Regions from separate parts of the Homo sapiens genome. Here all the other regions are reported to be linked to region 1. Evidence: microRNA targets listed by miRTarBase, many of them from high-throughput screens and not tested one by one. Region 1 holds a microRNA gene; each other region holds the end of a gene's coding sequence.

Region 1 (7,126 bases):
ATGTATTAGAAAGAAGTATGATGTACAGACAATGGCTTTTATCTGCTTCAATCTGTTGCACAATGTAAACCACACATGCCGTGGATGAACATCTAGTAATAGTGTATAGAAAATCAAAGATAACTATGTTCACAGATTTCTCATTAGAAAGTATGCCAGGACGGGGCATGGTGGCTCATGCCTGAAATCCCAGCACTTTGGGAGGCCAAGACAGGAGGAATGCTTGACCCCAGGTGTTTGCGACCAGCCTGGCCAATATAGTGAGTCCCAGTCTCTAAAAAAAAAAAAAAAAAAAAAAAAAATTATATATATAGCCAGGCATTGTGGTTTGCGCCTGTAGTCTTGGTTGCTCAGGAGGCTGAGGTGGGAGGATGGCTTGAGTGTGAGAGGTCAAGCAGTGAGCTGTGTTCATGATGCTGCCCTTCAGCCTGTCTGAGATTGAGACTCTGTCTCAAAAAAAAAAAAAAAGAAAGAAAGAAGAGAAAAGAAAAGAAAGCAAAAAGAAAGAAAAAAAAGGAAACTATGCCAGGCAGTAGACAATAAAATATCTTTGAAGTAGGAAGGAAAAATAACCATCAATCTAGAATTTTATATAGAGTAAAATATCTACAACAAATCAAGGTAAAACTGATACTTTTCCCAACAACAAAAGTTAGAGGAATTTATCACTAACTAAATTGAACTAGATGAACTATTACAGTTTTTAAGCAAGGAAGCTGTTATTTGATGGAAGCTAAGGTATACATAATCAAACAATGATTACCAATGTAGAAGTTTCCTTTCATTTTCTGAAACCGTTTTTGGGACATAACACGCTGCTTATACTGTGTGTTTATATGGTACAGTATTATGTTAAAATAAACTAATAACATAAGGATATATATTGTGAACACAAAACAACCATAAAAATAGTTATAGTTGATTAACAGTATTTAAAATGAAATACAAAAATAATAAAAGACTGACAAAGAGCAAGTAAAAAGCAACAACAAAAATAGATGGAATAAGTAATAAGCAAGGACAAAAAAAAAGAACTATTGTTCCTTCTTTCTTTTCCTTTCCTTCTGTGTCACTTTCAGCATAGGTAGTTAAATAATGCAGTAAAGTAACAGAGAAAATAAATTATGTAATAGGGTTCCATGGTTGTTTGTGTTTATTGGAAAGTCACTGCTTGTTTGCAATTGAATTGAGTTCTGGTTTTGAATGGAAAGTGTAGCCTCTTGGAGTTGTCAACCTTGCTCACTCATTTATAGACATAAAATGCTTATCTTGTACTCAGAGTCTTGCTGAACTTTCAAGCACTGTGGGTCCACAAGAATTCTGCGTTCACGTGGCATCACAAACGCTGTATGTGAATAGAACAGTAAGAAACTGAACATGTATATCACAGACATCTCTGCTCACACTTGTACTCAAGTGTCCCATCATACTGCACTTTTAAAACACAGAGGTAAAATTATTTAAAAATTTAAGGCAGTAATAAGAGAGTGTTAAATCAAAAACAGGGCACTTCTGAGCATGAAATCTTGTATGACTGTACAAGGTACAGTGCATGAAGCTGGCCCTACATGAACAAAACGAATTATTTCCTTCTAAGTTCTAGAACAAAGTAGAGATATCCAGTCTAACCACTGAAATTCAATATTGCATCAACATTCTTGCCAATGCAATATGAGAAAGATAAAAATTAATACAACACATGCCATTAGTAACAACGTTAAAAACATGAACACAGGAATAAACTTAGCATAATGTATGCCATACCTGTTTACTGAAATCTTCAAAACTTTGCTGAGAAAAATAAAACAAGATCGAAATATTAAGATTGGTGTGAAAGTAATTGCAGTTTTTACGATTGAAAGTAACGCAAAAACTGCAATTACTTTTGCACTAACCTAATATATTGCAATGTATAATGTGATTACAGATTGGAAGGCTTAATGTTGTTATGATAGTATCTCTCCCCAAATTGATCTATATGTTCAATGCATATTTAAAAAACAATTGTAGCAAAGTTCTTTGTAGAAATTGTTAAGCTAATTCTAAATTTTATATGGAAATCCAAAGGACATATTATATACAAAATGATTTCTAGGAAGAAGAACAAAATTAGATGAGCAGCACCTTTTTCTTCCAAGACTCCCTATATACTCCTTTTAGGCACCAGTCATAGAGGTAGTATGGCTGAGGTTTACAACTGGATGTATAGATAATGGAACAGAATAGAAAATCCAGAAACATGTCATTTTTTATGTGCTTAAATTTTTGAAAGTATTTCCATGGTTATTCAATGAGAAAAATTATAGTCTTTTAAACAATTTTATCCCAGAGGGAATGTAAGTATATTTAAAGACAAAAAAGAAACCTTAACTTATAACATGTCTGCACATGCTCATATACAAGAGGTATACAAGAATAGATGGAAGAGGAGTAAGATAAAAATACCAATTAAGGCCTTTGGACTAACAAGTGATGGAGTCTTTTTTTCCTGCCACTAACACTTTTCGTATAACTTTTTCCCCTAGAAATTGTAACTAGCCACAATTTGAAAATTAGAGATTGACAGTGAAGTGTATTAGTCAGTTTTCATACTGCTGATAAAGACATACCCAAGACTGTGTACTTTATAAAAAAGAAGAGGTTTAATGGACTCACAGTTCCAGGTGGCTAGGGAGGACTCACGAACATGGAGAAGGCTAAAGGCACGTCTTACATGGTGGCAGACAAGAGAGAATGTAGACAGACAAGTCTACATTGTCTTGGCAGACAAGTGAAAGAGGAAATAAATCTTCAGATCTCGTGAGACTTATTCACTAACAGGAGAACAGTATAGGAGAAACCATCTCCATGATTCAATTATCTGCCATGAGTCCCTCCCACAACACGTGAGAATTATGGGAGCTACAATTCAAGATGAGATTTGGGTGGGGATGCAGTCAAACCATATTAGTAAGTCTCCCCTGCATTATGGTGTACTGTTAGTGTGTCACTCATATCATATCAGATTCCTTAAACATTTGTTTGCATAAAGTCCCCATGTAATTCTATTCCCCATAGTAAGTACCTGCTTCTCTAGCACCATGTACTATGTACTATGCACAAGTAGCCAGAATCAGATTTGTCTACAGAATTGGAGAACTATTATCTCCGAACTTTTGTTCTCCTGCTAACAGCTCTTAAACATTGAGAGATGTGTGTAGAGGCTTAAATACTCCAAGCGCTTTTTCTCTAATCAGGAATAGACTATTTTTGAAGGATTGAGTAAAAGCTGTTCTTTGCAGGACTTTTCTATTATCATACTCATTTTTGGACTCCTCTCATGTCCTGTCTCATTTCCCCATGTGGTTATCAACTTGTCTAGGGATAATGTAAAATAACACATATCATGCTGGTCTCAGGACAAAACTCCATTTATTACAGTTGGTGCAAAACAGTCAGATTTTATGCCTATGATGCTGGTATAATTATTATACCATGATATTGACCCATTTCACTCCAAAACCCCTTCTAGTTTGTATAATAATTTATACAGTCATCATTTTATAATGTGAAATAGTCACAACCACAACCACATTCTACCCAGGAGAGAGAGTGTAGAAAAATCTATGATAATTTAGGAAAGAAAGAGTCAGACAAAGCAGGTGCTCTTGAAGTTTAAAAACAAAACACATTTTGAACATGCAAGAAACTTTGTGAATACTGTTTGCGGAAGCCTCCTTGACAACATTATGAGGGGATGAACTCCAGGTGGAAAGGAGTAATTGCTATTTAACAAATAAATGAAAGAAAGGCTAAAGTTGACAGAATAGATTATATATTGTATATGCTCTGATAATGTGGAAATAATTCATCTAACACAAAACGGAACAGATGGCTTTGATAAGAAGATAAAAAATAAAGTTAGTTTTCTGATTACATCATCGTAATTGCTAGATGTCAAAGGGTATTATTTAAAGCTACAAATCAAATAGTAAAAGATCAAGTCTATTTAAGGAAACAATGAAAAACACTCGAAAGTTATTGATATCTATTAAATGTGGGTGATGGTATCCTGGAAAGGGGAAAGGAAAACTATACAACTTCATGTTCATGGTGTTTAAAAGAATTGAAGAAAAAGGATATTTTACAAACGTAAAATCATTCATGCAATTTCTAGAGCAAAATTATAAACTTCCCTAAATATTAAAAATACACCAAAAGAAAAAATAAAAATAGACACCCATACTGAATATTTCATACATTGTGATGGTTAGTTTTTGTGTGTCAACTTGCCTAGGCTATGGTATCCACTTCTGTTAAACACTAATCTAAATACACCAGTCTGGATGTTGCTGTCTGATGAGGTTAACATTGATGATCAGTAGACCTTAAATGAAACAGATATCCTCCATAACGTGGGTGAGTCTCACCCAATCTGTTGAAGATCTTAAGAGTAAGGATTAAGGAAGAAATGGGATCCTCAAAATTTGAATGGGTCATCTGAAAATACTATAAATGAAGAAAAGGGAATTGTACTCTTAAATTTTACTGAATTTTAGAAGTGTCCCTTTCACCATCATTTAGAGATTAAACCTGCATTGACTGAGGAAACTGTAATGCCCCGTCCCCAGGTAGTTTCCTTGCAAGATGCTGTTAATCCTCCTCAGCGCCCCCCTCCCACGACTCTTTTATTCTAGACTTGTACCTAGACTCAAGTTCTAGCAGAAAGCTGAGGTCGAAGTGTACCCCATGAGTAGATATGCCAGAAGCCAAAAGAACTACATAATTTTTTCAATTTATACACACAGAAACCCTGGGAATATGTGAGAAATAAGTATTAAGGTTGTGGGATAGTAGGAACATAACGTTGGATCTGGCTAAATTTATTGATACAGGCCAGCTAAGCAGAGATCCTTCATTTAATAGTGCAGCATGAGGGGTTAGAAAAAGATCTAACAGTTTAGTTGATTGGTTCAAACAAAAGCTGGTCTACACTACAAATGAAATTGAAAATTTCCGATTATTTATTCCTGACCTAGAACTCTTTCTTTAGCTTATACAGATCAGGTAAGAATTTAGCACACTCTCCATCTATTCTACCCCTAGGGACACCAAGATCAATTAGCCAATTCCATAAGTTATCTGTGAGTCGGACTATTTGTCTAATTGATCTAGGTCAAGAAATAGGAGTCTAAATTGAATCATAAAAGCAGAAAGCGCACCTCTATCAATTCCCAGAATGGAGCCAATTACTGATCCAGAACTCCTTGAATGAAAGGGAGGCCAGGTTCCCTTGAGGAAGGACTTCGCTATACTGCCAAAAAAATTTATATCATTAATCTTTCCCCATCCTTTCCAAAAGGGATGTATAGCCTTTTGTCAGGGTGACTTTGCATTAGGAGAAAAACAAGTAATCAATACTGAACATTGGATCCAAACTGATTCCAGGAGACCTAAAACATTGCTGCAATATATCAGAGTAGGGGCTTATAGGTCAGTTGAATAATGGAGTTATAGCCAAGGTGCATTTTGCAGTTGGTCCAGTGGATCCCTGATCCCATCCTATGGTTATTTTCCCAACTCAGAATGTAGGGGTGCTGATATCCACCACATGCCCATTTAACTTGCCTATTTGCTTGTGCAGAAAACAGATGGATCTTGGAGAATGACAATGAATTATCATAAGCTTTACCCACGTGGTAACACCAATTACAGCTGTTGTACCAGATGTAGTTGCATTGCTTGAGTGCATTAACGCATGCCCTGGTATCCGGTATGCAGCTATTGATATAATACGTGCTTTTTCCTTTTCACCTGTTAGTAGAGTCCACTAAAGCTGTTTACGTTCAGCTTGCAAAACCACAATATGCCTTTATTTTCATACCTCAGGAGAATATTAACTCTTCAGCCCTATGCTAAAGTTTAGTCCACACCACAATACACATTTATTTTCATACCTTAGGAGAATATCAACTCTTCAGCCCTATTCTATAGTTTAGTCCACACCACAGTACACCTTTATTTTCATACCTTAGGAGAATATTAACTCTTCAGCCCTATGCTGTAGTTTAGTCCATACCACAGGACACCTTTATTTTCATACCTTATGAGAATATTAACTCTTCAGCCCTATGCTATAGTTTAGTCCACACCATAGTACACCTTTATTTTCATATCTTAGGAGAATATTAACTCTTCAGCCCTATGCTATAGTTTAGTCTACACCACAATACACCTTTATTTTCATACCTTAGGAGAATATTAACTCTTCAGCCATATGCTATAGTTTAGTCCACACCACAGTACACCTTTATTTTCATACCTTATGGGAATATTAACTCTTCAGCCCTATGCTGTAGTTTAGTTCACACCACAGTACACCTTTATTTTCATACCTTAGGAGAATATTAACTCTTCAGCCCTATGCTATAGTTTAGTCCACACCATAGTACACCTTTATTTTCATATCTTAGGAGAATATTAACTCTTCAGCCCTATGCTATAGTTTAGTCCACACCACAATACACCTTTATTTTCATACCTTAGGAGAATATCAACTCTTCAGCCCTATGCTATAGTTTAGTCCACACCACAGTACACCTTTATGACTTGGCGATGCGGGCTCTTTTTTGGTTCCATATGAACTTTAAAGTAGTTTTTTCCAATTCTGTGAAGAAAGTCATTGGTAGCTTGATGGGGATGGCATTGAATCTATAAATTACCTTGGGCAGTATGGCCATTTTCATGATATTGATTCTTCCTATCCATGAGCATGGAAGGCTTTTCCATTTGTTTGTGTCCTCTCTTATTTCCTTGAGCAGTGGTTTGTAGTTCTCCTTGAAGAGGTTCTTCAATCCCTTTTAAGTTGTATTCCTAGGTACTTTATTTTCTTTGTAACAATTGTGAATGGGAGTTCACTCATGATTTGGCTCTCTGTCTGTTATTTGTGTATAGGAATGCTTGTGATTTTGCACATTGAAGAAGTTGCTTGTCAGCTTAAGAAAAACCTCCTGAGACGATGGGGTTTTCTAAATATACAATCATGTAATTGACTTTATTTCTTGGTCTTTAAAGATACTGGACACAGCCACTGCATAGAAATTCCAAAAAAAAAGCGTATGCTTCTCCTCATATATAGCCTATCAAT
Region 2 (7,116 bases), not on the chromosome of region 1:
TTGCATTTAAAAGTGACACAAAATCTCTATTCTCTCTACTCTTTCTCCTTATTGTCCTTTTCCTCATCCTATTCTTATATTCATATCTTATCCTATTATTATCTTATATCCTCATCTATTCTGTCTTACGCTCACACACACAACTTTAGCAAGTCTTTTTTTTCCATGATAGGCATCTAATGCCTATTTAATATTGAGATAAAATAGTGTAAATGACACTTAGGAAACAAAATCTCTCAATTTTTTAATGCTTTCACCTTCATTTTCATTCCCTCTTTAGGAAATAATTTAAGTTTATTTAAATTTAATCAGTTTATCAGTTAATCCTGTAATTATTTTTTCTTTGATAATTAGTTCCGTTGCTGTTCTTTTTCATTTGCATGTGCAGTTGTGTTTTAGCTTATAGTCTTTTCAGAAGTTAATGAGGTCTGCTAAGAGGCATATTGCCACAGCAAAAGCCAATTGGCTGGAATGCAGCAGCAGGGGAAGAATTCATTACCAAGGAGAATTCTAAAAGGGCAGCTGCTTACTAAATGCTACAGCTATTAAGATGGCAGCTTCCTGCCATGACAGAGCATGTTTCATTGATTTTCCTCTTTCCCATTCTCATATTGTTTCCTAATGACAAATTGAGACAGAAGCCCCACCTGCTATCAAAGGCATGTATAAGTGGGTTTTCAAATTATGTGCTTTCCTAATCATAAACTGTTGCTGCCTAAACAAGAGGGGGTTTTACTTTTTAAAAATCTATAACTGTTCCATGAAATTCTCAAGATGAAGGTTGATTTTATTTGGATATTCTACTAGGACATTTAACAGAAACATACAAATTTTGATCTTTTGGTTGATACAATCATTAAAGTTAAAAAATGACGGTCAAAAAAGGTGCATTCTTGTTGCTTTTTTTTCATATGTTTTTTAAAGACTGGAATTAAGCCTCCTGTTATTTCTATTTAGTTTATCATAATAATCATTTCACTGTAATTTTTTTCCATTTGGAGATGTTTTATTGGAAAACATCTATCCTACACTAGAAATTTGTGATATCTCAAAGAAAAGAATCTTCCCTAACTGTGAAGAGCTCTTAAGCCTGGTATTGTCTATTTAGAATCATTGGCGGCTCACTATTCTATTTAGAGGCCAGAGGGGATTTTTTTCCTCACTCCAGTGCAAAACATCACCAGCAGTGGTTTTTCTCTAAATGTGCAACATCCACAATTCATAAATTTCTTGATATAGAGGAAGGGAATTCACATTCCTGGGAGAAGTAATGACAAAAAGAGGAGAGAATGTCATCTGCACAATTACCTGGTAATAACTCACTGACGTTGGCTTTATCCTTTCCAGATCTCAATCAGTAGTGGATCCTACAGTACTAAAACGCATGGATAAAAATGAGGAAGAAAACATGCAACCATTGCTTTCTCTGGACTAATAACTTCTCTACATCCCCTTCATGGATTAGAAATGGAAAGTATTGGTTTTCAGCAACAGGGACAACACTGTAGAGGAATTACCAGCTGGAAACCGACTTATTCATGTTAATGTAGCATAATATATAACAAGGCATCAGGCTTTCCTTGGCCTGAACCATGGGGGCCCTGGGCTGGATTTTTAAAATGTCAATAATTTATTCTGTAAGTGCCAAGTTGTTTGTAAATATAATGTAATCTTCATGTCAAGTTTGTAAATTTCAGTAGTAACTCAGTTTGGAAAAAGGTTGGCTCAAAAGTCCATGCCAGTGTTATGAACTATAACAAAAAGCAGAAAAGACACAGTCAAAGCTAATTAAATGTAGCCCTCTTTCCTATGAAGCCATATTTCAGCTCTCATAGTGATTGTTTCATTGTTTTTCTCTGAAACTCTGTCAGTATTCAAACATACTCTTAACGGGCACACACAACTAAGTGATTCCAGGAAATTTTATGATTAATGTATTTCCTGTCTAGTGATTTTCATTTCAGAGAAATGTGTCTTAGTAACTATCATTGGCCTTGCATTTTGGAGGCAAGGAATGGCAGATGAGCTGGTAAACTGAACACTTGAACTCTTCTATGTTGTTTAATTCTTGGAATCTTGTGAAAAGATGTGTTTCCTCAATTAAGACGTAGAAATGTAAAAAAGAGTGGATTCTTTTTAAATTGCTGTCTTCACAATGTGCCCTTTATTCAAGACCCTATTATATTTCTTCCTAATGTACTCTAAGTACATTTCCCCTCCAAAACTCTTTGACTAAGAGAATGAGAACTCATGTGAACAGTGTTCTGACAGCTAATTTTGAACATAAAATTTTCCACTTACAGATGAGGGGCTAATTTCTAATTGTTGTGCACTGGTTAAAAAGTATATATATATATATATTCACACATATATATTTTTACTGAGCTCTAATAAATCCTTAATGTGACAGGCTTATAAAATAAATCATAGATATTCAATGATCTTATGGATAATTACATGAGATAACTCTGGAAAACTACTTCCACTGAAGTTAATGAAAAGGAGAAATAGTGAAACTGACTTTCAGTGTACCTATTTAAAGGAATTCCAAGTTAATTTATAATGCAATCTTACATATGTGCCATCTTATTTGAACTATATTTTTCCTTCAAAGAAGCAATAGGTCTCAACATAGTGTAGGTAGCATCAGGTGACAGAAAGCCAATTTTATTTTCAAATTTAAGTTAATTATCTTCGTGATCCTATTTATCCACAATTTCTTTCAGAAAAGACTGAAAAAACACATTATATTCAGGAGATATAATGAAATTATTGGAAGGCATCTATGACAACATGTAATCATTTATACGTGGATTTAGAAATTTGCATATTTAACATTTTATTTCATAAAATTTATACAATTACAGCAAATCTTAATTTTTTAATTTTAAATTTCAATGTGAAAAAATGATTTTTATCACCCATAATAAATTTTGAGATTGAGAGTTTACCATTAAAGTATTCTTTTGGAAGAAAAATATCTCAGAAACTCTTGGAAACCAACAAAAATAAAGGCATGTGTCAGCCTTCATATTTTTTGGCCAAAAGCTCCCAAAATTTGTTATAATTCTGCAGCCAAAAATTGTAAAAGCAAGCTGAATACACCAATGTACAGTGTATCAATGGACTGCCTCATGTGTGTAAAAATACATTAATTAACACAAATGAAAGATACCTTAATAATGCCAACCTCCAGTCAAGTGCAGAAGAATAATGACTGTCAGGCACTCTGCTCTCCTTGTGACTTTTACAGAGATTGGAATGCACTGGGGACAACATGTCTCAGCAGTTCTTACCTTTATAAGAATTCTAACCATTGATATTCTTACATTCTTGCCTACCTGACATACATTTTGTAGCCATGGGCTTTTTAGACTATATAAATCTTAGGCAGTATAATCCATTGGAATAAAATAGAAACATTGTAAGTGCAGAGGGCAGTCAACTTTTCATTCTCATGAGTTTCTCTTGATGTGTACCATTTATTGCCAGTTTTCAGAATTCTGCCAGTTTCAGATGTCAACCAGCATTGGCAGCTTCTTTCCCCTATCGTAAAGTTAGTGTCATATATAAAAATAACTAGAAAGGCATATTTTATATGTATGCCTATCTAATTATAAGTATCATTCACACTGTCTCCCAGACCCACATTTGGAAAGTTTGCATTGCATTACTGCTCATCTTTAGATGAGCAATTGAGAGTTGGCTAGATTGTGTAAAATATTTTAAAATGAATGAACAAATTACAATGATGATGCCTTTTGAAATTACCATATCTAGTTCATTCTGTGAATAAACTCATTTTCTAGTAATGTTTGTGAACCTTAGTCAAGGGATATTCATTCAACTTTATAAATTTACCCCTCAGCACCAGCTATCTAGCACTGTTTAGGAATTTTTCCCTTCATGATATTCTGTGTCACATCCTATGTCTATGAATAACCTATACACTATAGTTGTATGCCTATAAGCACTCCTATACTCTTGTATTTTAATTGCAATAGTATACCTCCACTCTCTCTCTCTCTCTCATACACACACACACACACACTCTTACACACACACTAACACACTAGACTGTTTGCCCTAATGAATTTTCCTCTGTACTTCGAGAGCTATTTTAGTTGTCTTGTCACTTGAAATTTGCGGGCTTCAAAGAATTATCGCATTTGACTTGGAATGGTCCAGTAGTCCATTTACTTCTTTCACCCTGCCTGTTCCATCTTCTATTTCTGATATTTTTTCTTTCTTCCAGTTATTTCAGGGGCAGGTGATTCCAAAGCTGGTTTAAAAATAAATAACTTCTCTTATGTTGTCAGTGATGTTTGCCTGCATTTTTGACTACTATTTAAGAGGGAAGAGATTATCATGAAAATATACTCTAAGAAATATGAAGAAGTGCCTCTTTGAAAATGGAATAAAGCAACGTTACTGGCATATGGATTTTATTTGTACTCTCTTCCAAAAAGTAAATACGTAAATCTATATTATATAGGTGAAATATAGATATCATTTGAAGAAGGATATTTAAGGCCTTTATTTGAACATACTCATACAGTATTAAGTCTCTGTTGTGTAAGTTAAATACAGTAACTTTAGTACATGTTAATGATAAACGTGGCACTAGGCTAAAACGATATACGAGTATTAAACAGAGTTTTGCAAGCAAGTTTTTGAAGTGGGCATGCATGAATTCTTTCATTTCAGTAATGGTTTGCATAAGTGTAGACAGAGATATTTCCTAAGTTTTTTCATATAGAATACTTATTTACTTTATAGTACCAAAAATTCATACATTCATAAGCAGGAAAGCCAAAAATTCATACATTAATACTTAGCTTTTTTAATACTGTTAACTAGGTCATATTGTTAAACATGTGAAGCGTCTGTAATATTCCTGAGGGAAAAGAGGTCCCTCTATTGCATCAAGAAATTGGAGAGTTGTTTTAGACATTGGGGAATATGTTTATGACTCTTCACATAAAGAAACCTTCAGAGCCATGGAGTATGTCTTCAGGGACAGGGATCATTTGCTTCTACAATGTAAAGGTTTATGGACATATCTCTGGTCCTTTAAAGAAGTTACATTAAGAAAGCTTGCTGAGAGGCTGTACACTCTTCTGTTGTTTTATTTAAAGGTCTGCCTTGTGTGGTTGGTGAATAATATCTCAGCTTCTTTTTTTGTGTATATTTATTAATGATTACATGAAAAGTTGCCATCAGCCATGAGGACACTTCAAAAATTTTCAACACACTAAATAAAATGAGCAGAGCTCTAGCATGATATTTGAACTTTCAGATATGGTATATGTACATTTTTTACAACAATAAGCTCATAGGCATATATTCCATTGTAGATCTGCTATATAAATACATAGCCTGAAACATAGTAATGCATTTGAAATTTGTGAGGTCACTGATCATACAAGAAGAGGCAGATTATAAACCAACATATTGGAACAAAAGAAGATTGGTTAAATATGCAAGGTGTGTAATTATCTTCAGTAATGAAAAGGATTTGTTTTCTTGTTTTTGTCTTTGGTTTTAGTTGAAAAAATAGCTTCCCATATGCTACTGGAACTATTTGACATTATTTGCTACATGAAAAAAGGCAAATAAGTAAACATACAAAAGAAGCTTGGCTTTGTAACATTATTATATTATGATCTCAATGGCTTAGAGAATATAATCTTTTTTAAGAATTAAAGATTTTATTTTATAAATATTTGGAGGTTAACATAGGACATGAAAATAGTGCTGTGGATTCTGTTATGTACTAACTATGGGAATGAATTCTCCAGTACCATAGGAAAATATATAAGATAACAACTTTGTGGATTGAAACACTCAAATTAGCCTTTTTTTCAAGGAAGCAGGTGTACAAATGATGCTATTGAAATAAAAAAATGTAGAAATCACTTAATTATAGGAGTTAAATATAATCAATGCACTCATGGTAAATAATGGAAATTGTTAAAATTTAGAAGAGTTTTGTCATTATTTGACTTAGATTTAAGTCTCAGTGCAAATATGTCTGTCCTTGATATAGTGCATTTATTCTGTAAGACTTATTTTACCTGGTGAACGAGATGGACTTAGGTGAAAATAAATTTTAACCACAGTTTTAAGGGTCACCCAATCCTCAACTACTTTAAAAAATTGCAATGAATTTTAATTCATTTACTTTTAACAGAGATACAAAGCACTGTCTTGTTTCTAATCCAATTTTTCAATTTTTCAGATTTTATATTTGCTTAAACAATAAATAAAACTCAGAAAACCAAATAGTTTTTGTTTTCAAAGCTATCCAGGAAAAATAAAAGATGTCTAACAGGAAATCATACAAGTCCTTGAAGAATACTGAGTATATTATTTGCTATTTTACTCAAATGTTATTAATTTTTACTACTACAAACTACTTATTTAGTACTACACGGCATTTACTATTTGGCCTTTTGAAGGAGTTATAAATTCCAAAACACTATAATATAATTTTTGGACAAGTATACATTTCTGTTTAAAAGAAATGTATGCTTTTATTTTGTATATTTTATATTTTAAATGTATACATTTATTTTGCACATTGTTAATGTTAAATTTGGTAGTCCTGGATCTGCTGCATCTATAAAATGGAGATTTCTTTAAAAAATCGTCTAAAAATTAGCAATATTTTTATTTTGAGAGAAATTGTGCTTAGCTATTTAAGTTAAGATTCCTCAAGTTTGTGATATTTGTATGTGTGGGGATCAAAGAGGAAAATATATAGTAATTTGTTTCATCAAAATGACGTATTCAATATTCTATAACTTCTAGTCAAACTTTCAAATGAAAGTTTGAAAGAAGTAAACTAATGTTTTAATTACATATAGCAAAGGAATGATCAGTAAATAAAATAACTAGGGTTTTCACATTTGCAATAGAATGACTGGATTAGGCAAGAGATTAAATTTAGAAATTTGAATTACAGAAAAGCATTGGTTTAAATAAATCCTCAAAAAAGTAATCCCAGGTCAAAATATGATGTGAAATTAAAAAAAAAATTCAGCCTGATTTGAGAAAGAATGCTTACTCAATAAATATGTATTTGTGTCTTCTGTGAGTTTCCCTCATTTATCC
Region 3 (7,126 bases), not on the chromosome of region 1:
TACTGAATATTTTTATTTACTTAACAGAAACATTCACTTATTAGATATCACTGAAGTGCAATTTATAGAACTTAGAGGCAAATTAACATGTAAATTCATATTTTAAGGTTTTGGATTTTTTTTTACAAATATTACAAATGTACATCCATTGATACAATATTGCCATTCTATCATGCTTTTTATGTACATACCTTCAATTAGAATTACTATGTGTTAAGTTCATTTTGCTTACAAAATGCTGAAAACTAACGGGGCACACTGGGAGAGATTTTTTTTTTTTTACCGATGCATAAACTGCAGAGAGATAGAAATCTAGGGCCTGTGTGAAAAGAGGCACTGGGACCAGGTGATCTCGCCTTGGTGTTTAGGGAATGCTCATCCCTCCAACCTTGGCTTAGGATGATGAGTTGGGAAATAAAGTGTTCCTCTCACCAGGGTTTGATCTGTCTGCGGTTCCCGCAGGAGTGATATTGTTTGGTGTGAATCTCTAGAGGCCAGCGCGGTGGCTCATGCCTGTAATCCCAGCACTCTGGGAGGCCGAGGTGGGCAGATCACTTGAGGCCAGGAGTTCGAGACTAGCCTGGGCAACATGGTGAGACCCCATCTCTACCAAAAATACAAAAATTAGCCAATCTCATAAGCCGGTCTCAAAAAAGTAAATAGATCTCTAGAGATGTGGCCACCAGCGTTCCTTCTGGTGGGAGGTCAGAACATGTGGACACATTCAGGAGAGTCCAAAAATGACTGCAGCAACTCCCTGTGCACAAGGCATCAGGAACCCAGCGGGGCTCCCCCAGCCCCAGCATGAACCTGTTGTGTGGATCCCTCGTGGGGGGATGGTGCCTGAGACCTCCTCCTGGGTGGGGGCCACGGCAGCAGAACAAAGGAGCCAGGAGTTTTGGGACAGGGACTAACAAGACAGCAAGAAAGGGAAGAGGCGAGGAGGAGAGAAAGGGTTGAGAAGGGAAGCGAAGAGGCTGAGGGGAGAGTGAGCGGAGGGTGGTGCTGGCCGCCTCTCAGGCTTCCCAGAAACAGCCTGAGAAGGAAGCTCCTCTGTCTCCACCGCATCTCTGGTTGGTCCCTGTGGCCTCTGCTCCTGCCTCCTCACTTCCCCACCATCCTTCCTTCACTTTCTCGGATTCAGAATTTGTGGGAGAAGTTTGACGGGTCACCAGCAGCCCAGTGTTTCCAGAAACAGCCCTGCTCCTGCAGTGGCGAGGAACCCAGACAGCGGCAAGGCCTACACCGTGTCCTCCAGCCACCCGCCTAGCCCCACACAGTGGCAAAATACCAAAAGACCCTAAAATACCAGCGAGGCGGGGGGTGGTCTGTCCCTGCTAAGAGCTGCCTGGGGGTGCTACTGCCTCTCCTGCAACACAGGGCTTCTAAATTTCCACCTCCAACCGCGAGCTCTGCAAAAACTGCAGGCGAGGACAGGCTTTGGAGGTATGTGGGATGGCGGCTCCCTGACATGGACTAGGGGACTCTGCAGCCTCCCTGAGGGCCGCGGGAAGCCCACAGAGCCTCACCGGGTTCTGTTGGGTGTTATGAGAGGCGGCTGCAGCGATCCAACGGTAGTACATAAAAGGAAAGCCTCTCAGCTTCCCTTTGGTCTCTGTTAGAAAGTGATACTTATTGTATTTTGGGCCAATTAGTCAGATTATTTTATTAGAATGGCTTCTTAAAAAAGGGCATATAAGTTTCCCTAAATTAAAAATGTCTACTTTATGTACGTCTCAAATGTCTTCAGTTGTTTTAAACAATACACTATAGACACATCTTGAAATTTATTATCTAAAAATAGGATTTCATCAAAATAACTATTCTGGGCATTGATATCCTCTGTATTTACTGTTTATGGCTCTCCAGACGTGATAAACATTATATCCAAAAAAAAAAGCATGCGACTTTGTTGATAAGAAAAGCTCCCTGTGAAAACAAAATGAGATGGAGAAATATGATCTGTGTGTTTCTTTGAAAAGGAACCCAGCTTGATGTTTCTGAGGAACAGGACTCATCACAAAGTCAGCATGGTGTGATAGATATATACAGATGTAAAGAGAATCACAGGAATGGAAAGGAAACAATAGCTATCGACCTGCACATCCTTTCCTCAGCAAAAACAAAACCCACAGAAACCCTAACTCTATCCCTTGATATCACACACGGCTGCAAAACCGGGGCTGGAGGTGGACAGCGGAGGCTGCCTGGCCGCGCAGCCGTTCCCTGCGCCCCGTCCTGCAAAAAGGCCAGAAACCACCAGACACTAACTTTTTGACTAAGAACCAGGCCGGAAACCACATTGCTGATCTTCCTGATGGGAAAGCAGTGTGTGTTTTGGAGGCAGATAAAGGTGGTGCTGGTTTTATGAGGACTTTTGTAGGGGCCTAAGCAGGCATGAATATAGACTACAGAAAATCTGAAGCAAGGGTATGAATACAGACCACAGAAAATCTGAAGCAAGGGGCTTGGCGGTGTCAGGTGGTGGGAAGTGCGAGGAAGCCAGACGGTGATTTCGAGGTGGACTTGGAGGGGCGGGCCTGACTTCATCAGCCCCCCTTGTGTCGTGCCCAGCGTATTTTCAGGGTGACAGAAAGTGACCCATCCCCTACTTGTGTCGTGCCCAGCGTATTTTCAGGGTGACAGAAAGTGACCCGTCCCCTACTTGTGTCTTGCCCCCTCACTTGGAGGGGAATGGGTGGCCACTCTTAAGACCAATTCAGTGGTCAAAACTGCAGGGCAGACATGGCCTGAAAGTGGTGCTGGGATGTTCTGACCTGGACCTGAGGGCGAAATCCTCAGGCTTCAACACGAGCCCTTCCATCTCTGCAGAGGTGGCACAGCCCCTCCAGGCACATCCAGGGCTGTGGGAATCCTGGGACCTGGGTCTTCCAGGCACACCTGGGGCTGTGGGAATCCTGGGACCCGGCCCCCCCAAGCATAGCTGGGGCTGTGGGAATCCTGGGACCCAGCTCTTCCGGGAACTCTTGGGGCTGTGGGAATCCTGGGACCCGGGTCTTCCAGGCACACCTGGGGCTGTGGGAATCCTGGGACTCGGCCCCCCCAAGCATAGCTGGGGCTGTGGGAATCCTGGGACCCGGGTCTTCCAGGCACACCTGGGGCTGTGGGAATCCTGGGACCTGGCCCCTTCGGGCACTCCTGGCACTGTGGAATCCTAGGACCTGGCCCTTCCTGGCTGGGTCAGGCCCTGCCAGTTGGGAGCAGCCTGCGTGTGGCGTGATCTGGTGTGGCGTGCCTCCTGCGTGTAGGGTCACCCTTGACTGCCTCGACTACCTTCTCCTTTCACTACCCAGGGCCTGGGACCCTCCTTTCCTTACGTGGGGTCCCCTCTGCAGCCCACATCCCCTCTGACAGATCCCTCCACGGAAAGGCTCCGGCACCTCAACCTCACTCTGGCTGCATTGGAAACTCTTCTGTCGCTATCGGCCTTCTCTGAAGAGCTTTAATCTCTCCTTCCATGGAGTCTCCTGTGGACTTAATACACGAATCCATACACTTGTACTAATGGGTAGCATGGAATTAATGTGTGGCTTTCTCCAGATGTGGATGTTGATATTTCAGTAAAGTCTGAGTTGTTTCTGGAAGGTCAATGCCTGAGACAAAACGAATCCCAACCCCCCAGCTGTGGCTTCATGATGCTGGCCACTGGGTGGCCGAGCGCTTTCCGAGTCCCGTGAATCAGACCCTGCGTCTTCCCTGTGACAGTGAAATCTGCTTACAACACAGGCCCCCTCGCTGCAGAAACAGCGTGATTTGGAGCCCACTGGGACAAAGCATTATATGCTTCTCTAGCCAACATCTCAGATGAAGGTGATTTGAGGCCTGGGTGGGAGACTTCAGCCAGGAGCTGGCCGTGCTCCCACGCATTCAGGGGAGCGCTCACTTCTGACTGCTGCGAATGTCTGAGCCACCCATCACCTCTCGACTCTAAGTTCTCTAAGCTTCATCCTAGTGATGTCAAGTTACCAGAACTTAATAGAAACTGGTCGTTTGAGCTTAGCTTTTGCACTGAATTAAGATTTCATTTATTTTTGTGATTTTTATAAAAGATTAATGTGAGTCCTTTATTTGAAAAAATGTTCTCGTATCTTTTGAAACTTTATCTGGAAGAAGTTGTCTACTCCAGTACCTGTTTTCTTTTCTAAAAGAACTCGAGTGATAAATTTGGCCTGATTTTAAATCCCAGGAAAAGTTTCTTTTTCCATACTAATATCTCTACTTCTTATTATCTTGTAACAAATAGCTACAACTCAGTTTCATTTCTGCCTTCTCATTATGATAACTGTAATTTATAGCACTTGACTATGTACAGCACAATGTTATTCTTGCACTTTCTGGGGTGGTCAGCTGGGATTCTTTCCGGGAAGCCCACACCCCAGAGGTGGACACCACCATGCTTTGCCGTCTGCCATCACTGTCATGAATTTCAGAGATGGATTTTTTAAGTTGGAGAAATGAGAGACTGGCTATCTAGCATGATGAATGTTAGAAATGAGTTCTCGGAGGTGAGATGACAGCAGCTCGAGGTACATGGATTACGTAAAGATACTTGGAAAAGAGCCTGACCCCGTATGAATACAGCGCCTTGGCTCTCAGGGATGATGCTGTGGGCTAAAGCCCCCATGTCCCATCTCCACTGTGAGCTGAAGGTCTCTGGTGTTGGAAGCCTGCTCTGAGGGTCACAGAATCCTGCCTCTTACATTTTTTGACAGCTGAACTTTTTTGGGGTCTTGTCCTGCAAGGTGTTGATTGGAGAATCTGAAAGAATAGAGAGCTGGTAGCCTCTCAAGCTGAAGGTAAAGGTTGTTTTGATTTTATTTTGTGCTTGCTTTCTAATGAAAATTTAGTTAAAAAATCAGAATTTGATCAAAGACTTGGTCTCCTTATTACCTGGTAGGGAGGTTATAGGGTGGTAGCTAACCCTTACACAACCCAGACCTCAGTGGCTCTTAGTATCGGCCACCATAAACCAAACGCCATGACGGACTGAACAGGCATGGGCCAGGTGTTTCCGGGCTCCCCACATCTGCAGCACGCGTGGGCCGGGTGTTTCCAGACTCCCCACATCTGCAGCACGCGTGGGCCGGGTGTTTCCAGGCTCCCCACATCTGCAGCACGCGTGGGCCGGGTGTTTCCAGGCTCCCCACATCTGCAGCACGCGTGGGCCGGGTGTTTCCAGGCTCCCCACGTCACAGGTCTTAACTCTGCCTCGCAGGGGTTTTGGAAACTGTTCCTTCACTTTGTGGGAATGGCTTTCGTTTCTCTGGTTCTATTTTAGGTGTTCGGTAATGTCGTACATCTTAAATCTTTTTTGAAAGGAGGTGGAGTATAAAAACCTAAATGAATAGTGAAAATAATAGAGGATTCTTATTGGTTTCTCTGGGGCTGGGGTGGGCATGGCTTTTCTCTTCATTTGTGGCTTATCTTCATGTGCCCCCTCAAGCTAGTGAGACCCCAGCATCACCAAGAGGCGCACGCAGGGGTGGGGTGCAGGGACGGGGCCTGAGGCTCACTCCTGCCTGGTGTCGTGTCGGTGCCTCCTTCCAAGGCTGCAGCTAAAACCCCTTTGCCTGAATGGAGCCCCTCCCTCAGACTCCACAGGAAGAGTCGGCGCTAACTCAACAGTGCATGTGCCCCTGGGTGTGGGGGACAGGGTTCTGGGGCCAGCGATCTGGAAAGAGGCACGTTCTGAATTTGTGTTGTTGCTCGTCCAAACATTGCACACTCGCGTGTTTCTGGGACACCAAAGTAAAACGAATGCAGGGAACCGGCCGACCCGCCACGTCGCCCCCCAGACACGGTCCCATCCCTCCAGCGTCCCGCTCAGCTCCAGCAGCCAGGAGCCCGCAGCCTAGAGAGTCAGTAGAAACTGCTGCTGCTCCGGTGGTTTCCTCACCCAGGTGCCCAGGCCAGCCTTCTGAAAGGCCTTGAACAGCTGCTGTTTCACAGACTGGTAGGTGTGCGCCCCCAGCTTGGCCTCACAGTACATGGAGGGCGTGTCTCCAGGGCTGGGTGTCCGTGTGCTCAGCTGCGGACAAGAAGGAGAAAGAGCCAATCAGACACCAGCAGAAAAGGAGCTTCTGCTAGGTGAGTTTTACATGCCAGGCATCAGCTCCTGGCCTTGGCCTTCTGCCTTTCTTTCTCCCACTATTACAGAGAGCAACTGTGACCAGGTCCTCTGGCAATTCCACAGGAAACCTAGTCATCAAGGAAACCCGCTTCATCTGAGGTGTGAATGATGAATGAGCGGATAAACTTGACTGCTACTAAAAGTATGAACACTGTGCAGGGGCTCCAGGCAGGGTTGGGGACAGAGGGGGACAGTGGGAGCTAAAACAGCATCACAGTGGGCAGGGAGCAGGCTGGTGAGAGTCATGTTGTCGGCTGAGCAGGAGGATGATGGAGCTGGGGCGTTTCCTCTGTTAGCTTTCTGAGGTCTGCCAGGCAAAGCTTTGCAGCAACACAAGACAGGGATCAAATGCAGCTCTGATACCCCCACCACGGGGCAGGGAGGCCAGGAGGGAAGAGGATGGGGCCATGGGGGAGCTCCAAATCCCACAGCGGGTCTTCCAGGGAGGCACTCACCGGGGGGTCACCTCGAGCATGTGCAAGAGGAGAGGGCCCTTTTGCTCAGCAGGACAGCATCGACGCTTCCCTGACCTTCCAAGTCTCCAGGAGAAGGGAGACCCCGGCAGTGCCCTTGAGCGGACAGGACAGAGGCTGAGAGCTGCAGGATGCTGGGCGTCTCGGCCAAGCTCAGAGCTAATATGTGCAATTCTGAGTGTCCTCTAAGTTGGCTAAAACGTTTATTTTAGGCATTAGTATGCCTGCCCTCCTCTACCAGTTGACAAATCAACACTATTATTCCTGCTTGGATTAAAAAGTGTGGAAAAATGAGAGAGGCATTTTTTATGTGTTGGCTGGTTTTTCTGTTATTTGTTGTTTTTGGTTACAGTCTATGCTTTGGAAATGCATACAGATACAGATTTTGATTTAAAATCCAGAAATATTGCTGTTATCCCTACTTGTGAAGGAGAAATTTGCTCCTAATTGTGGATGTCGTGGAAATGCTTGGGCTTTGGGGTTGGGGAGAAATTCGAATTCT
Region 4 (7,126 bases), not on the chromosome of region 1:
TGAAATGAATTAAAGACCTAAATGTAACAGCTAAACTTAAAACCTCTCAGAAGAAAACATAGGGGAAAATCTTAATAAAATTGAATTTGGCAATTATTTCTTGGATATGACATCAGAAGCATAGGCCCAAAAAAGAGAGAGAGAGAAGAAGAAGGAGAAATAGCTAAATTGGATCTCATTACAATTAAAAACTTTTATTAATCAAGGGACATTATTGAAGTATAAAAATACAACCTACAAAGAGGAGGAAAATATGTGCAAATTATATATCTGATAAAAGATTAATATCCAGAATATATAAAGAACTCCAAAACCTCAACATCAACAACAAAACAATCCAATCCAAAAATGGACTAAGGGCTTGAATAGATATTTCTCCAAAGAAGATATGCAAATGGCCACTAAACACATGAAAACATGCTCAACATCACTAATCATTAGGGAAATGCAAATCAAAACCACAGTGAGATACCACTTCACCACTAGTCATAGGGTGGCTATTGTCAAAAAAAATTGAAAATAACAAGTGTTAGTAAAGGTGCATCGCTGATGGGAATGTAAAATGATGCAGTCTCTGTGGAAGTTTGCTGTGTGAGCACAAAAGTATCTGAGACAGGTCTCAATCAATTTAGAAAGTTAATTTTGCCAAGGTTAAGGATGCACCCATGAACAGCCTCAGGAGGTCCTGATGACATGTGTTCAAGGCGGTTGGGGTACAATTTGCTTTTATACATTTTAGGGAGACAAAATACAATCAATCAATACATGTAAGATTTACATTGATTTGATCTGGAAGGTCAGGACAACTAGAAGTTGGAATCGGGGGGGTCATATGTAGATTATTAATTTTTCTGATGGCAATTTGTTAAAAGAGTTATTATCAAGGGGCCTCAGAAATTTATTTTTGGTTTACAGGTGGTTCCTACAAAAACTTAAATGTGGAATTGCCATATGAGACAGCAGTCCCACTTCTAGGTATATACCCAAAAGAATTAAAAGCAGAGACTCAGACACGTTTGTACACCAATCACCCCAAACATTCATCAACAAAATGTGGTGTGTATCTGTGTGTGTGTGTGTGTGTGTGTGTGTGTGTGTGTGTGTGTGTGTGTGTGTTTCAGCCCCATCCCCATCCCTACCTCAGGAGAAGGGAGAGGAGCTACAGATTGAGTTTAATCACCAATGGCCAATGAGTCAACGAATCATGCCCCAATTATATTTGAGGGAAAATACTTGTAAGTGATAAATAAGTGAGAAATGTTGTAATAAATACAGGTGGCCAGGCACGGTGGCTCACAGTTGTAATCCCAGCACTTTGGGAGGCTAAGGGGGGCATATCACTTGAGCTTAAGGGCTAGAGACCAGCCTGGGTAATATGATGAAACCCCATCTCTATAAAAAATACAAAAATTAGCCTGGGGGTTCAGCACATGCCTGTAGTCTCAGCTACTCAGGAGGCTGAGGTGGGCAGATCACCTGAGCCTGGGGAGGTCGAGGCTGCAATGAGCCGTGGTCACACCACTGCACTCCAGCCTGGGCAAGTGAGATCCTGCCTCAAAAAAAAAAAAAAAGAAAGAAAGAAAGAAAAACTAAGGGTATGGACATAAAAGTGGAAACAACAACAGACACTGGGGACTACTACAGGGGAGAGGGAAAAAGGCTAAGGGCTGATATACTATCTGTTGGGTCCTAGGTACTAGGATGAGATCATTCATACCCTAAACCTCAGAGTCATGCAGTCACACATTATACCCATGTAACAAACCTGCACATGTACCCTCTGAATTTAAAAGTTGAAATTATTTTTAAAAGCCTAGGGGTGGGGGTGGGGGGGCACGATACTGAAATTGGAATGCTCTTTCTTATAGAATGCCGACTACTACCAGCCTGGCCAACATGAAAACCCCATCTCTATTAAACATACAAAAATTAGCCAGGCGTGGTGGCGCACACCTGTAATCCCAGCTACTTGGGAGGCTGACACATGAGAATTGCTTGAACCCAGGAAGCTGCAGTGAGCCGAGATCACACCACTGCCCGCAGCAGAGTGAGACCCTGTCTCAAGAAAAAAGAAAAAAAGAAAAAAAAGAATGCCAACTAGTAAATATAGGATATGAGAAAATCACACTCTTGAATCCCTAGTAATAATTTATTCACACAAGAATCAATTCAAAAGATGCTAAAACAAGTTAACTAGTTAAGGTTTGATGAGGAACAGCTACATGCAGTTATGTGCTACATAGTAACGTTTCAGTCAACAGTGGTCCCATAAGATTATAATACCTTATTTTTACTGTACCTTTTCTAAGTTTAGCTGTGTTTAGATACACAAAATACTATTGTGTTGCAATTGCCTACAGTATTCAGTAGTCACATGCTGTACAAGTTTGTAGGCTAGGAGCAACAGGCTATACCATACAGCCTATTTGTGTAGTAGGCTATACATTTAGCTTTGGGTAAGTATACTTTATGATGTTCACACAATGACAAAATCGCCTAACGATGCATTTCTAGAATATATTCCCATCATTAAGCAATGCATGACTGTAGACAGTCTCAAAGAATCTCAAAATAAGCTTCCTTATTACAAAGGGAAAAAAATAACAACTACAGGGAAGGAACCTGGTGAATGCCATCTCAGCCAAGTGATCAAAGTTATTGCCACTAATGACACAAACCAACATATGTGCCACCTGATGTGACGCCCTGGACAGAGCTGCAGCATCATTCATGTTGTATTTCTAAAATAATGCATAGTCTGAATCAACTTGTAATGAAATGTGAGGCAAAAACAAAATGAGGGCTTATCTGCAAAATAAATGGTCCCCCCTCTCCAAAAAGGTCACTATCATTGAAGACAAAGAAGGGCTGAAGAATCATTCCAGATTAAAGGTGACTAAAGAAATAGGAAAACTAAATGCAATGTGTGATCCTTCCTTGGATGAATCAGGAAGAAAGATTGATATAAATTATATTACTGAGACAACTGGTGAAATTTAAATACAGTCTATAGATAATAGTATTATATCAATCAAGATTTTCCTGATTTTTTTTATCATTGTCTTGTGGTTCTGTAAATGGATGATCTCACAGTCCAGGTAACAGTAAGGGGCATGGTATTTGCAATTTACTATCAGATGATCTAGGAGAAAAAGTATAGATACATATGTGGAGACAGCGAGGGCAACAGGAGTGTGAAAAGAATAAAACAAATGTGACATGTTACCTTGGTGAATCTGGGTGAAGAGTGTATGGGAGTACTCTGCACTATAATTGCAACTTTTCTGTAAGCTTCGAATTGTTTCAGAATGAAAGTTTTTAAAAATGAGCAAGAAAAACTTCCCATAAGTGCGCCATGTTTACACTTCTGGAGAGAGGCTCTTCATACTTGCATCAGGTTCTGACTGTGAACACTCCTCAAAAAAGGGTCAAGACACATGAATAGAAGTGATAAGAAGGGAAAGAAAAATTATGAAAAAAAACTGATACACCTTCTTCCCATTACTTATATTTCTTTTGTTTTAATTTTTTTTTTTTTTTTTTTTTTTGAGACAGGGTGTCATTCTGTTGCTGAGGCTGGAGTGCAGTGGCACAATCATGGCTCACTGCAGCCCTGACCTCTCCAGGCTCAACCTTCCACCTCAGCCTCCCAGGTAGCTGTAACTGCAGGTGTGCACTACCATACCCAGCCGATTTTTGTGCGTTTTCTTGTAGAGACAGGATTTCACCCAGGCTGGTCTTGAATTCCTGGGCTCAAGTGACCCAGTTGCCTCAGCCTCCCAAAGTGTTAGGATGACAGGTGTGAGCCACTGAACCCAGCTTAATTTAAAAACAAAAAAATTTTATTTGATAAGAGGTCTTGTTATGTTGTCCAGGTGGTCTCAAACTCCTGGCCTCAAGCAATCCTCCCAAAGTGCTGGGATTATAGGTGTGTGCCATCATGCCCAGCCATATTTCTATATTTAGTCATATTCTCTGACTCTTATAAATGGGAATTAAACTCAAATAGCAAAGATAAAGATCTGAAGCAATGATGTTAGTCTGAATATCAGGGTTTTAAAAAAAGGTTTTAATTAAAGCAGTAAAACTTAAATATTGTAAAAATAATAGCTTTTGCCACATTAGCAATAAATGCTGTTCTTTCTTTAGTCTTTATTAATAGAACCATGGGCTTGCTCTATCACTCAGGCTGTGCAGTGGCACAATTGCGACTCACTGCAGCCTCGAACTCCTGGGCTCAAGCAATTCTCCCGCCTCAGCCTTCCAAGTAGCTGGGACTACAGGTTCATGACACCACTCCTGGCTAACTTCAGTCTTTAAAACTCAATAGTTGACCCAAAACAAATTTCTCATTCATTTTATATCATTTATTCATTCATTCTGAAATATTTCATCAATTTTGAACCAAACACTGCTCACTGGTGGGGGGAGGAAACTGCAAGTAATCATTAATTGACTCTTCTCATTGACCACAAAATTAAAATATATTTATTACACTGGAAAGTGAAGTTTCTTCATTGTGGCTAGATCAAAGAATATGATTATAGGTGAGAAATGTGTAAAGAGTACAACAAAAAAATCAATTTAAAATGACTATTTAGGGTGGGCGCAGTGGCTCACACCTGTAATCCCAGCACTTCGGGAGGCTGAGGTGGGCGGATCACTTGAGGTCAGCAGTTCAAGACCAGCCTGGCCAACATGGTAAAACCCTGTCTCTACTAAAAACACAAAAATTAGCCAGGTGTAGTGGTACACTCATGTAATCCCAGCTACTCAGGAGGCTCCTTCAGAAGACAGAAGGAGCATTGCTTGAACCTGGGAGGCGGAGGTTGCAGTGAGCCAAGATGGTGCCACTGCACTCCAGCCTGGGAAACAGACACAGCGAGACTCCATCTCAGAAAAAAAAAAAAAAAGATTTTTAAAATGTCACATGTAATTTCTCAAGAAAATTAACTGCAACTCAGGTTTATTTTCACATTGTTTAATTTTATGTACATTTCACATATCATAAATACACACAATACAAAAAGCTATACAAAAACCCTACTAATTCAACATTTAAAAAAGGGAGAGGGAGATACTGCATTTGATTTCTGACACTTTTCTGTTTAAATAATACTTAAATTCAGTTTTCAAGAAGACAACAAATTGAAAATCATTAATTTTTCAGAGGGCTTTGTGTTCACATAAATTCATCATTCAGGCTGGGCATGGTGGCTCACACCTGTAATCCCAGCAAGTTGGGAGGCTGAGGCAGGTGGATCACCTGAGGTCAGGAGTTCAAGACCAGCCTGGCCAACATGGCAAAACCCCATCTCTAAATAAAAACAAAACAAAACATAAATAAATTCATCATTCAAGTATATTTTTATTGAAGCAATAAACCACTTCACTGGCTGTAGAGTCAAACTGGGTAAGCCTCAATATTGAGCAAAAGTAGAGAACTCTTGCTTTCCTCAGCCTAGAATCAGCTTCTAACACACGAAATGCAGAGCACAACAGTGATTTTTAAGCTGGCATTATTAAGACCACAGTATAGGGCTGACAATGCACAGCACACCCTATATTGTTTGCCTATAGACTCTTGTTAAAAATATCATACTAAAAATAATAATTAGAAATTTTATTTTTCCTAATTTTTTATTCAATTTAAAAAATAATACATCTTTTTCATTGTGCTTGGCAACTGGACATGACATAATTTAAACACACAATGGAGAAAATATATACATAACTGCTAAAGGATTTTGACATTGTTTAAATTAATTATTTTATTATTTTGGTTCAACAGTTATCAATCACAGTAAATATAAATAACAAAATAATATCATTCATCATACGATCATGTTTTTAAAAAGTGAATTGTTGAGGCACAAAAACATTACGTGACTTGCCCAAGGTCATGAAGGGAATGAGGGGCAGACAACAGCATGTTTTTTCTAACTTAAACAACTATACTAACCCCTAGCTTATACCATCTTTCAAAATCAGCTCAGGGCGACAGATACAGAAATTTAACGCATTATCCAGGAATGTTTGTTTAACCTAAACTGCTGTTATTAATAAACTTAAGAATCTATATGTTTAGCATAAATTGTTAGGAATTTACAAATAAGACATCTTTTTCTGAATTACTAGGTGTGTAATTTGTTAGTATTTGACACAATTGCAAAAACAAAATTGACTATTTTAAAGAAACGAATTCTGTGAAAGATGCTTATTAACATGATTTTTTTAAAAAATACTAATTATAGGACCTACAAAATTCAGAAGACAGTACCTTAGATACAAACATTTAATATAAATGTACTAAATCATCTTCTAGTTGACCCTTTGTTATCAATGAAAACGTTCTAACAAAGCACTCATAATGTTTCCTGGTATTCTTTGGTGCTTATCAATCAAAGCTTGAACAGCATTCTTCGTCTATTAAGAAAACAAAAGAAAAGCTATTGTTAGTAGATCTTAATATAGACTGATTTATCTCCCATTACCCCTCAGAATTAATGATTTCCTTCTCAGTACACCTGAAGCTTATATATTTCTCTTTTTTATAGAGATGGGGTTTCACTATGTTTCCCAGGCTGTTCTCGAACTCCTGGGGCTCAAGCAATTCTCCCACCTTGGCCTTCCAATGTGCTGGGATTACAGGCATGGGCCACTGTGCCTGGCTGCAGCATATTTCTTATACTTATTTTATTAAGCCTTCAATTATAGTTGTTGTCCACGTGTCTATTTTCTATATCAGACTGTAAGCTCCTTAAGATACATCTTAGAATTTCTCCAGCATTAAGCACAGCAACACCTTGCACATGATAAACACTAAAGGGGACTTAAAGAGGAAAAAAAATAGAAAAATTTCGAGTAGGCAAATGGAAGACTTAGTCCTTTCCAGCTATTAGTAAATTCTAATGTATATTTTCTTTTATCACCATACATACTGAACAATTATATCAGGGTCTCACTGTGTTGCTCAGGCTGGTCTCGAACTCCTGGACTCAAGGGATCCTCCTGCCTTGGCCTCCCAAAGTGCTGGGATTACAGGCATGAGTCATCATGAACTATGTATTTACATACATATATACTTCCTTTTCTAGACTTTAACCTTTAAAGAAAATAAACACTA

What was found. The annotated mature microRNA hsa-miR-548aj-5p reads UGCAAAAGUAAUUGCAGUUUUUG and lies in region 1 at 1,868-1,890, opposite strand. An mRNA with a match to its seed (bases 2 to 7 or 8) in the 3' UTR can be bound and repressed. Matches are read on the target gene's strand: a 7mer-m8 pairs with bases 2 to 8, a 7mer-A1 pairs with bases 2 to 7 and ends in A, and an 8mer does both.
Region 2: the mRNA of CLVS2 is a reported target of hsa-miR-548aj-5p. Seed matches in the 3' UTR shown: 7mer-A1 at 4,658-4,664 and 7mer-A1 at 6,575-6,581.
Region 3: the mRNA of ADARB2 is a reported target of hsa-miR-548aj-5p. Seed matches in the 3' UTR shown: 7mer-A1 at 2,240-2,246, 7mer-A1 at 2,171-2,177 and 7mer-A1 at 1,414-1,420.
Region 4: miRTarBase lists TMEM68 as a target of hsa-miR-548aj-5p. Seed matches in the 3' UTR shown: 7mer-A1 at 6,168-6,174 and 7mer-m8 at 5,431-5,437.

Annotation. Positions count from the first base shown.
Region 1 is chr21:18,684,268-18,691,393 of GRCh38, forward strand. MIR548X (microRNA 548x) reads right to left here and starts at 1,897; the gene lies at 1,823-1,897. The region is part of intron 2 of MIR548XHG (MIR548X host gene); the gene reads right to left.
Region 2 is chr6:123,062,327-123,069,442 of GRCh38, forward strand. It overlaps CLVS2 (clavesin 2), which reads left to right. Exons shown (of 6, transcript NM_001010852.4): 6 at 1,348-7,116. The coding sequence ends at 1,435. Among named protein-coding and RNA genes, the nearest start is that of CLVS2, 70 kb to the left of the region's middle.
Region 3 is chr10:1,177,321-1,184,446 of GRCh38, forward strand. ADARB2 (adenosine deaminase RNA specific B2 (inactive)) reads right to left here. Exons shown (of 10, transcript NM_018702.4): 10 at 1-6,049. The coding sequence ends at 5,873. Among named protein-coding and RNA genes, the nearest start is that of LINC00200, 21 kb to the left of the region's middle.
Region 4 is chr8:55,733,793-55,740,918 of GRCh38, forward strand. TMEM68 (transmembrane protein 68) reads right to left here. Exons shown (of 8, transcript NM_001286657.2): 8 at 4,966-6,426. The coding sequence ends at 6,340. Among named protein-coding and RNA genes, the nearest start is that of TMEM68, 36 kb to the right of the region's middle.